Homo sapiens: one gene and its partner. The protein of the gene in region 2 purifies or fractionates together with the protein of the main gene of each other region. This does not show direct contact. Each region holds a gene or a part of one and is shown on either strand. Other genes may lie near its edges.

Region 1 (7,035 bases), on a different chromosome or scaffold from region 2:
TTTAGGGGACCACGTATTGCTTGAGGCATCATCACAGGTCCAAATGAACACACGACCATCCTAGGAAGAAACAGGATAGAGTCAGGAGGTGGAGTCAAGACTCCTGCGTTTGTGATGTGATGTCCTCCCAGTCTAGAGCCACCCGGCACCTCTCTGCAGGAACAGGGTGGGGGATTCAAAGGGGAGCCGAGGACCTCTGGGGCGTCCACAGCTTTGTTTCTGTCTCTTCACACTGGTTAAGAGTCTCCCGGATTCCTTTTCTCATCCGGGTTTCGGAGGTGGACTCTGTCTGCATTGCTAACTCAGATTTTCTCTGGGGTTTTCCTCATGCCTGCCAAGTCACTTCCACTGGCCGTCTATACCTTCTCAACTGAATGGGCAGAGCTCTCCAAAAACCAAGCTCCAAGAATGAGAAGGCACAAGTAAAAAAGCACAAAAATCCCAAGTTTAGAACCAAACCAAACAGGTTCCCATGATGTGAAAGGCCTAGCTGGCTCCCTCTAGGGTGGTGGTGTATAACTGAAGGCTCACCCTTGGCCGTCCTTGCTGTCTGGGAAGGGTGGCTTGGTAGCTAAGCGTATAATTCCCATCCAACCCCATCGTTGCTTGGGAACACTTGGAACTGCACCTGGGCACCTCGGCGCCCTAGTCTCACATGGGTCAGAAGGGAAAATTCATCCCGAATCCGCCTCCTTCTTGGTGCCGGTTCTGTTGTAGCTGTCTCATCTCAGTGGAGGCAGGCCACTTGTGGCTTCTGACCAAGACTTCCCCACACAATGACCTGACTCCCTGTGCTCTGGGCCAAAGGTGCCTGTTGCTCTCCCTTTACCTTCCCAGAGGACTTTCTGCTAAGGAGACTAAGAGCTGATGGGCCTGACTCGAGACTAAATGACAAGGGATACTCATGGCCCTGGGCTGACCTGGGAGCAGCTGGCGATGGTGCTGGTGGGCAGGCCGATGGAGGGGGCCCAGGCCACATCTCGAACCCAGTCACTGTGCGCTTCTAGCTTCTGCTCCTCCTTCCACTGGCCGTCCTCCTCCTCCCTAACAGTGGGGACAGAAAGAGAATCAGCAGGGGGCCGTTCCCACACCTCAACTCCTCCCCAACCCAACAGGCTCTGCCTGGGGTGGAGAAGCGATTCCATCTTTCTTCTTTCATTCATGGAGTTTGTGGCATTTTATTCCCTTCACCCCAGCTGTAAAAAAAACCCTCCAGAAAATGCTCTGCTTCCACAGCCAAAGAGTCAGCTCCAACAGTTGGGAATTAGGTGAACAGGTGTTGTGTTGTTTTTCAAGGATGTCCTCCAACAGATTGAAAACAGTATTTTACTGGCAGGAGGGAGAAAGAAAGGTGACCTTGTTTCTTGTGAGTGTGGCTGAGTCATGGTGAGTAGGGTAAAGGGTAGAAGTGTCCCCTCAAAGAGAAGGCCACACATCCCTACTTACTTCCACAGCTTGATGAGGTTGTCACAGCCACCTGATGCAAACCTCTTGATGTAATTGGGTTTCTGCCCCGATGGGTGGTCTATGAGGCTTCCAGGTACAACAGCAGGGGCCCAGCTGACGGCATTGCAGCCAATCTGTAAAGATGGGACACATGGTGACTCTGCCTTGCAAGAGAACACTGCTTCTGCAGACCCAAGCCTGCTGTCCCTCTCCCCTCCGCTTCTCAGGACTGGAGTGTGTGTGAAGGCTGACATGAAGCACTCATCATGGGGTCCACTGCTCAGAATTCTCCCTCAAGGATCCCAACAGTGTGTGCATTTTTCTGCAGTGTGCGCTAAAAGTAGAAATTAAGAACTCCCACAAGTTTAAGAAACAGGACATTTTCTAAACACATGAAAGAATGGTACATTGGAGCTTTTTTTTAAGAAAAATCTTTTATTATAAAGTAATAGATCAAGAAACAAGAATTCTGCCACCTGCCTGAAAAGCCCTGTCATTATGCCCTTCCTAATCACAGCTCCCTCTTCCACTATAAGTAACCACTGCCCTAACTTCTAACCCATTTTCCCCCCATTTTATCACCCAAATGTGCACCCCTAGATACTATAGTTTAGTCTTGTCCATTAAACATTTTTTTGGATGTTTTTTACATCTCCTACTTTGCAGATTCCTCCTCTGATTTTTTTCCTTACAATTTTTCTGCTGAAGAGAGCCTAGTCTCTCGGTCTGGGTTTTGCTGCTTCATATGCAGTTCAATATGTTCCTCTGAATTCCTGAAAACTGTCAGCTGGAGCCAAGACTGGACAGACTCAGGTGTGATCCCTTTGGCAAGACTAGAGCTGGTGCGTTCTCTCATCAGGAGGCACGTTAGATTGTCTCTTATATTAACAGCTGTCAATAACTCAGGCCTCTCTTAATTCACTGGGGCTTGTAAAATGGTGATACTCTAATTCCATCCTTTCTTTGTCATTTATTCCATGGAATGCTCCAGATAGGGACACTTCTTCTCATTAACTATTCAGTTACCCAGGGATAGAGGTCTGATATGGTTTGGCTGTGTCCCTACTCAAATCTCATCTTGAATTCCCACGTGTTGTGGGAGGGACCTGGTAGGAGGTAATTGTATCACAGGGGCAAGTCTTTCCCATGCTGTTCTCATGATAGTGAATAAGTCTCGCTAGATCTGACGATTTTAAAAATGGGAGTTTTTCTGCACAAGCTCTCTCTTTTGCCTGCTGCCATCCACGTAAGCTGTGACTTGTTCCTCCTTGCCTTCTGCCATGACTGTGAGGTTTCCCCAGCTACGTGGAACTGTGAGTTCTCCATCCTCTTTCCTTTGTAAATTGCTCAGTCTTGGGTATGTCTTTGCCAGCAGCGAGAAAACAGACTAATACAAGGTCAAAAAGGAAAGGCTGGATAAACGCTTGATTCTTTCTGAACTGGTTCTATCACTTTCCAAAGATGACTGATTCTCCTCTTTATTTATTATTAACAATTTTTTTTTTTAAAAATTGAGACAGGGTCTCACTGTCACCCAGGCTAGAGTGCAGGCTGGTAAGATCATGGTTCACTGCAGCCTCAAACTTCGTAGGCTCAAGTGATCCTCCCACCTCAGACTCCCAAAGTACTGGGATTATAGGTGTGAGCCACTGCCTTTTTTTTTTTTTTGAGACAGAGTCTGGCTCTGTTGCCCAGGATGGAGTGCAGAGGCGCGATTTTGACTCACTGCAACCTCCACCTCCCAGGTTCAAGTGATTCTCCTGCCTCAGCCTCCCGTGTAGCTGGGACTGCAGGTGTGTGCCACCACGCCTGGCTAATTTTTGTATTTTTAGTAGCGTCGGGGTGTGTTAGTCCATTTTCACGCTGCTGATAAAGACATACCTGAGACTGGGCAGTTTACAAAAAAAAGAGAGGTTTAATGGACTTACAGCTCCATGTAGCTGGGGAGGCCTCACAATCATGGCAGAAGGCAAGGGAGGAGCAAGTGACATCTCACATGGATGGCAGCAAAAAGGGAGAGAGAGCCTGTGCAGGTGAACTCCCCTTCATAAAACCATCAGATCTTGTGAGACTTATTCACTATCAAGAGAACAGCATGGAAAAGACCTCCTCCCATGACTCAACTCCCACTGGTTACCCCCTACAACACATGGGCATTCAAAATGAGATTTGGGTGGGGACACAGCCAAACCACATCATGGGGCTTTGCCATGTTGGCCAGGCTGGTCTTGAACTCCTGAGCTCAGGTGATCCGCCTGCCTCAGCCTCCCAAAGTGCTGGGATTACAGGTGTGAGCCACTGTGCCTGCCCTGGGCCCAGCCTTTTAACCCTCATTTCGTCTTAGTTCTCTACAAGTAACTATATATTTATGCTGAAGTCTTTGTAGTCATTTTAGTTGTGTGACTTGTATCCTCTAGTAGATTTCTCAGGAAGGGCTCCTAGAAACAATAGTCCCTGAATTCTTGCATATTGATAATAGTTCATATCCTTTACACTCAAAAGCTAATTTTAAAAACAGCTTTGATATAGTATAATTGACATAAACTGCATATCAAGTGCATGATTTGGTGAATTTTGACAAAAATATATCCTGTAGGATCATCACATCACCTCAATCAAGATAAGGAACATGCCCATCATTCCCAAAAGTTTCCTCGGATCCCCTGGTAATCCATCTCCCCATCCTGCAGCCCCCAATCGTGGTGACCATGGGCCTGCTCAGCTGCATTTCCTAGATATTACAGCAGTGGAATCACAGTGTGTCCTTTTTCTTCTTTTTTTCACTCAGCATAATTATTTTGAAATTTATTCTTCATCTTATTTTGTTAAGTCATTTCTTTTTATTGCAGTCATTTCTTTTTATTGCTCGCAGTATTTCCAAAGTATGGATATATCACAACTTATCATTTACCTGTTGATGGACATGTGGACTATTTCCAGTTTTTGGCTATTAAAGCTGCTATAACCTTTTGTGTATAAGTCTTTGTGTGAACTTCAAAGTCAATTTTCCTGGTTATAAATCCTTGGCTCACACTTTCTTTCCTGGAGTATTTTAAACATGTTATTCTTTTTTCTTCTGCACCAATCCTTACTATTGAAGAGTCTGACAATAATCTAATTGTCTTTCCCCTTTAAGTCACAAGGTTCCTTTTCTCTAGAACCCCCCAAAATTTTCTTTAAAGTCTAATAATTTTACTAGAATTATATCTTTTTGTTGGTGATGCTGAGTTGAATTTTTTTTTTTTTTTTTTTTTTTAGAGACGGGGTCTCACTATGTTGGCCAGGTTGGTCTTGAACTCCTGGCCTCAAACAGGAGTTCACCTCGATCTCCCAAAGTGCTAGGATTACAGGCTGAGCCATCACGCCTGGCCTTGATTTTTTTTTTTTTTTTTTTTTTTGAGACAAGTCTTGCTTTGTCGCCCAGGCTGGATTATAATGGCGTGATCTTGGCTCTCTGCAACCTCTGACTCCCGGGTTCAAGCAATTCTCTTGCCTCAGCCTTCCGAGTAGCTGAGATTACAGGTGTGCGCCACCACGTCTGGCTAATTTTTGTATTTTTAGTAGAGACGGGGTTTCGCCATGTTGGTCAGGCTGGTCTTAAACTCCTGACTTCAGGTGATCCGCCCACCTCAGCATCCCAAAGTGCTGGGATTACAGGCTGAGCCACTGCGCCCGGCTGATATTGTTAAGTGTGGGGTATGATCTCTCAATCTCAAGTTTCAAATCTTTGTTTTTTAATTTTAAGAAAGTTTTCTGGATTACTTTTTGGTATTCTGTTTTCCTTTCCAGGGACTCCTGGTATTCGTATGTCTGACCTTTCTGCCTGTCTTTACTTTTGGTCAAAACCTTTTTACCTCTTCATTTTTTTGCTCTTGAAATGTTTCCTTTTTCACACTGTTTATCCTTTTCAGGCAGGATCTGCTGTGTTCATCGACACTTGCATTTCGTCTTAGTCTTTCTTTACTTCTGAAATGATTTTTAATTCTAATTCTTTCCTGAGTTCTGTCACCTTATTTCTGATTTTTAAAAAGTTGATTTACACTATTCTCTCTTGTTTTGTATTGTTAGAATGTCACCTGGCTTGATTTGAAATAGCAGGTTACAGCTTGGCTCGGTTATGTGGGCATGTCTTTCTAATGTGCTCTCATTGTCCGCAGGGAGGTTATTTTGCATATTCTTGTTTCTTATATAACAACTGTATGCAATTTCACTTCAAATACTTTTCTGTTATTTTTAGGTGAGATGAGTTTTCCTGATAAGAAAGGCTCAGGAAAGTCTAAGCTCAGAACTCTCCCTTGTTTCTGTGTGGTGTTAAAAAACGTGGGAGATGGCTTTCAGGAGTTCCTGTCTTTGTTCCTCTTCCCCACATTGGTCTACATCTCATCCTTCCTTTCCTGTGTCCCTATCCAGCTCAACTGTGATTTCATTTCCTGCAGTTCTTCCTCCTGAGGGGCCCTGTCCCAGAGGCTTGCTCTGGAGGATCACAGAGCTCAGATTTCTTCCCGCCCCTTCAGCCTTTCTTATTGTGGGCCGCTTCCACTCACTCGGTGTTACAGAGTGCAAACCCCTCCTGGTCATTTCTCCAAAGGCCCCCAGAAGATGCTCACCATCATCTTTGATTAGCAAAATGCAAATAAAAATCACAATAAGGGCCGGGTGTGGTGGCTTACACCTGTAATCCCAGCACTTTGGGAGGCTGAGGTGGGCGGATCACTTGAGGCCAGGAGTTTGAGACCAACCTGGGCAAAATGGTGAAACCCTGTCTCTACTACAAATACAAAAATTAGCCGGGTGTTGTGGCGTGTGCCTGTAATTCCAGCTGCTCAAGAGGCTGAGGCATGAGAATTGCTTGAACCTGGGAGGCGGGGGTTGCAGTGAGCCGAGATCATGTCACTGCACTCCAGCCTGGGTGACAGAGCAAGCCTCCGTCTCAAAAAAACAGAACAAAACAAACCCAAAAAATCACAATAAGATACCACCTCACATTCACTAGGACAGCTGTAACCAAAATGACAGACATATGTTAGTGAGGATGTGGAGAAATTAGAACCCTCATACACTGCTGATGGGAATGTAAAAGGGTACAGTTACTTTGCAAAACAGTTTAGCAATTCCTCAAAAAGTTAAACACAGAATTACCATATGACTCAGCAATTTCACACCTAGGTATAGACCCAAGAGAATTAAAAACATATGTTCATGCAAAAACTTATCTGCAAATGTTCATAGCAGCATTATTCATAAGGCCGAGAACATCCATCATCTGATGAATGGATAAACAAAATGTCTATATTCACAATGGAGTATTATCCAGCCATAAAAAGGAATGGAGTGCTGATACACGCTATGATATGGATGAAACTTGAACTCATTATAGTAAGTAGGAGAAGCCAGTCACAAAAGACCACAGATTGTCTCATTCTATGTACAACTGATCCTCAATTTCATTTCATTATAATGCTGACAAGATTAAAAAAAAAAAAACAACTCCCAGCGGGGGCCCCTGCCTGTGTGGAGTCTGTGTGTTCTCCCTGTGTCTGCGTGGGCTCTCTCCTGGTACTCTGGTTTCCTTTCACACAATAAAGATGT
Region 2 (4,584 bases):
ATAATTTATGTTTCAAAGACCATGCTTTAACTACTTGCAGTCAAATGAATGACTGAAATTGAGTCATCTAATTAAATGAAGAACTACATTCTTTTAAATACTTACTATGTGAAGCATTGACAATGGGAAGCTACTTTTAAAATATACCATTTTAAAGGATAATAACTATTCTGGAAAGTGGGTTGAATTGAAAAACAGAGCCTAAAAGGAATGTTACTTCTAATATTAAGTATGAAGTCTGTCATCAAAAAAAGCACCAATATTACTTCACGTGGATTATTTGTAAAGGAATCATAATTTCTTGATTAGATACAATGACTTCAACCCAGATTTATTCAATCTTTTAAAAATAATAAAAACACTTTTAATAAACACATCTATTGATCATGTTTAGGTAAAGTATCTTGTTGAGTTTATAAACCCAAATACCAGTGACTTAGTGATAAAAATGAGAAAATAATTTGATTGTCCATGCACACTGAAATGCAAAACAGACACCAGAGACATAAACTGCATGTTTGGGCTTCACAGAAAACATTTAAGAGGTTGACACATACATACAATCTTAAAAATGTCACCCTCATATATTAGGATTACAAATAAGCATATTACATAATAGACTTTACATTCATGTTTTATACTGTATTTCCAAAACTTGTAACTATTTGAGATAATTTTACATTTTACTTTAGCTAATGAGAATGAAAATGCATATGAGTCTGACATTACTTAAAGCTGACTTTCATATTTAAGACAGTAAGTTTGAAAGGAACACTTCAAATGAAATATTAAAGGTAAAGGGTATATGTTAATAAAATGAAATCAATTAAGATTTACTCAAATGAAGGCTGGAAAAAGTACCCTTAATAGCAATCTTTAAAAAAAAATTGCAATTACCATGTCTTTCATTTGAAAAGACTGTCATGCAGGTGAGACATTTAGAGTAAATATGTACTACTTCCAATGTTTTCCTAGAAAAGGGTTTTATGTATCAGACACTCAAGGTAAAAAATAAATTTAATCTACTTTTAATATTTAGGTTACACCTCAAACTAATCTGACAAATCTTAGTTTTTATAAGGCAAAACTGCTAATACGAAAGCTCTTAAAATTCTTGTTTTATTTCTCCAAAATCTATAAAATAAGATTTACTCTTTATGAACACAGCTTCAACTACAAAATTCCTAGTTCAGTCCCTCTGCATATGGCAGATGACAGAGAAGCATCTTGTAAATTCTTTGTATTTCTCTTACAACTATCTAGCTATGAAATGAGAAAAAAAAATGTTTTAAATAAAGTACCTGACTTAGCCCCAGTAACACTTACATTTAAAAACTTACATCTAAAATGGTCTCTGAAGTGACCCCATTTCCCCAACACTTCCTAGTCTACCTTGGAAAGAACAAGGTATGGTATTCCAAATCAGGACGGAATTTGACAGCACAGAAACACTGACATAGATTATACTAAATGGCTAGTTACATATAATCTTGCATAGACTTTGTATGCAGTAAAATGTTCTCAGGTGATGAGGATAAGATGACAAATTAATATGGAGAAAAACCTTTGAAGACAAATCAGGACATTGGAAGGCAAAAGGTAGAAAGTGAAAATTTTGTATGTTCACCTGAAATGGTACATGTTTTTCTCTACTGAAGAGAAAAAGTTGTAAGATAGATTCTTCATCTTGGCTTTTCTAGGAAGACGATAATGTTATGCCAAAAGATTGCTTATCTTAAAATCAAAGGAGGGAAAAGGCTCCTTTAAAAAATACATATTTATACATACACACATAAATATACACACACACATAGACACATATATAACAGACAGTAATAAAAAATATTCTCCAGTGTGGGATAGGGGCTCTGCAATTCTAAAAGTAAAAATCTGTAATTTTAAATTAATCTGAAAGAAATCTAAGCACAGCTGAACTTAAAACTATTGTCTGAATCACAGAATTAGTCATTTTATTTTAAAAGTGCACATATTTTATTGAAAGATATCCAGTTTCAGCTTTGAAGATATAGGCTCAAAGTCTGTTCTTGGCTCTTCCAGAAATTCTGCTTCTAGAGTGTTCATAATTTCAACCAAAACTTAGAAAGTTTTTCTAAATCAGACTTTTCAACCTGCTGAACAGAACTCATGTCTATACTTCGATGTTTATTTTGGCAGCATTTGTCTCTGTGAAGCATATCAAAATCACTCAAACATCAAAACTGCTGATCTGATAGAATGATTTATTTTCCCATTACAGGTAAGTCATGAATGGCTTGTTCTGAGGTATGTTTCTGAGCTATGAAGGACACCTACTAGAAAGCTCCACACTTGAAGGGTTCTCTTAAGGTGGTAACATTTTATGGCTGGACAGTCTCTGCAGGTACCAGATTCCCTGTTGTATCCAACTGCATACATTTACACGTGCATGCCGACACAGGGCACTCTGCATGGTCCCTAAAAAAATAGGTCAAATAACAGTTAAAAATCCAAATTAGACAGACATACATTTATTTATTTATTTATTTTTTAAGAGACAGGGTCTCCCTATATTTCCCAGGCTGTACGCACACTTTTGGGCTCAAGTGATCCTCCTGCCTCAGCCTCCTGAGTAGCTGGGACTACAGGTGTGCACCACTGTGCCCACCTGTTTACTTATATCTATCTATAATGCAACTTTTCAAAATGGCATTTGGAAAAATATAGAAACTAAAACCCAGAGAAAAAAAGCATCAAAAGCATCAAATTATAAACTACTGCCAAGCTGAAGTTTAGGGAGAAGTTAAGAAACACATACCTTTTACTTTCTACATATATGGCAAGATATTTCATTTATAGTTGTGAAGGTGACAGGGATGTGCTCAGAGTTTAAATTAGCTAGTAAGACAAACTGGGTATAAATGCTGTATCAACCAGGAGCACAGGGCCACTGGCACCATTCAAAATGAAATTCAAATATGTCTTGACAGTCTTAATTGCGTGACTACATAAAAAGCTTACTTAGAAGAGAACTGAGGCAGAGGTATGATATGCTCTTTTAACATTTCATTAGTAATTCAATTGCATGGTAAATTACAGAATATTCAGTGTAAAAACTGTAAACATATCCTCTCCCCGAATAAAGTTAAATAATGTTATTCAAACATTTAACTCATACAAAACATTTAAATTAGTTCTTACATAAGTATTACCTTTATAGTTTAAGGTTACATAGGATATCTAATCACGACATGTTCACACCACCTTTGTTAACATGAGTGACAGTAAAAAATAAAATTCATACTTTGGCTAAATGCTAATAGATAAACCCAAACTATTTAGAAGCAATCTGTGTTATCCCCCATAACTCCAAGCCTATCAAAGAAGAAATGTGCTGATTACCTGAACCAACTAAGCATATGTCCAGCATGTCCACCGTGCCTGCAATTATGACACCATGTAAACCAGTTGTTAAATTGGGCTAATTTTTTGTCCTTGCTCAAGTCCACTTTTTCATCTGATTTGGTTCCTCCTATGACAAAATAAAATGATCTTCATTAACTATATCATAATATTTTATTTAAAGTTACTTTCAAAAAGCATTTCTAAAACTGTGTTCCAAATATGAATCACACATCATATTGAAATAGCAATTTTGATGGTAGGTTCTAGTTTAGATGAAGCGAAACTGAATGACAGAAGCTCCCCTACATTTTTAATAGCCAATATAAAAATGGAAAAAAAAATCCAAACCCACTAAGAAACAATCTAAATTTAAAACTTTGGAGAGACCAAATCAGTAGTTTAAAATCTTTCCACAAGGAAAATACCAGGCCCAGTTTACAAGTGAATTTTACTTAACATTCAAGGAACAGGTAGGGCTGGGTGTGATGGCTCATGCCTGTAATCCCAGCACTTTGGGAGGCTGAGGCGGGCAGACCACTTGAGGCTAGGAGTTCACGACCAGTCTGGCCAACATGGTGAAACTCCGTCTCTGTTAAAAATACAAAAATTGGCCGGGGGTGGTGACACATGCCTGTAGTCCCACCTACTTGGGAGGCTGAGGCACAAGAATTGCTTAAATCTGGGGATTGGAGGCTGCAGGGAGCCGAGATTGCACTGCTGCACTCCAGGCTGGGTGATGGAGCAAGACTTTGTCTCAAAAAAAAAAAAAAATCTATCAAGGGACAGGTAATTCTCATCTGTACAAGCCCTTTCAAAGAAGAGAAAAAGCAGAAAGTTTCCCAATGCACTTCATGAGACTTGTGTAACTTAAACAATTGCTTAATTAGACTTAATATTTTTACTTAATTGCTATCTATAAAGACATTATGCATCGATAACTATGTTAAAAATTTTGCTTGGACCATTGCAGGTCACGCTTTCATGACCAAAAGGATAATCTTGCAGTCGGGAATAGTTTTAAAAAATATCCGTTTTTGCTAATGATATGAGGTGAAAGGATGTGTAAGTAATTCAATGATTAAAGATGTAAACACACTAGAATTACTCCTGAAAGGGTCACCAACAATTAATAATGAGAGGGCAAAAAGGAAAGGGGGAAGAGATAAATAAAATATAGATCTGATATGTACACTACTTTACACC

Evidence for each region.
Region 1: the proteins of MIOS (region 2) and SEC13 purify together in Homo sapiens (affinity purification with mass spectrometry; 7 studies listed by BioGRID and IntAct, with this or other methods). This does not show direct contact.

What each region holds. Positions count from the first base shown.
Region 1 is NC_000003.12:10,304,113-10,311,147, forward strand, and holds part of SEC13 (protein SEC13 homolog), read right to left. Parts: intron 1,581-7,035; coding exon 1,447-1,580; intron 1,045-1,446; coding exon 921-1,044; intron 61-920; coding exon 1-60. UniProt on the Homo sapiens protein: Functions as a component of the nuclear pore complex (NPC) and the COPII coat. At the endoplasmic reticulum, SEC13 is involved in the biogenesis of COPII-coated vesicles.
Region 2 is NC_000007.14:7,604,866-7,609,449, reverse strand, and holds the end of MIOS (GATOR2 complex protein MIOS), read right to left. Parts: intron 3,509-4,584; coding exon 3,379-3,508; intron 2,455-3,378; coding exon 2,358-2,454; 3' UTR 518-2,357; downstream 1-517. UniProt on the Homo sapiens protein: As a component of the GATOR2 complex, functions as an activator of the amino acid-sensing branch of the mTORC1 signaling pathway. The GATOR2 complex indirectly activates mTORC1 through the inhibition of the GATOR1 subcomplex.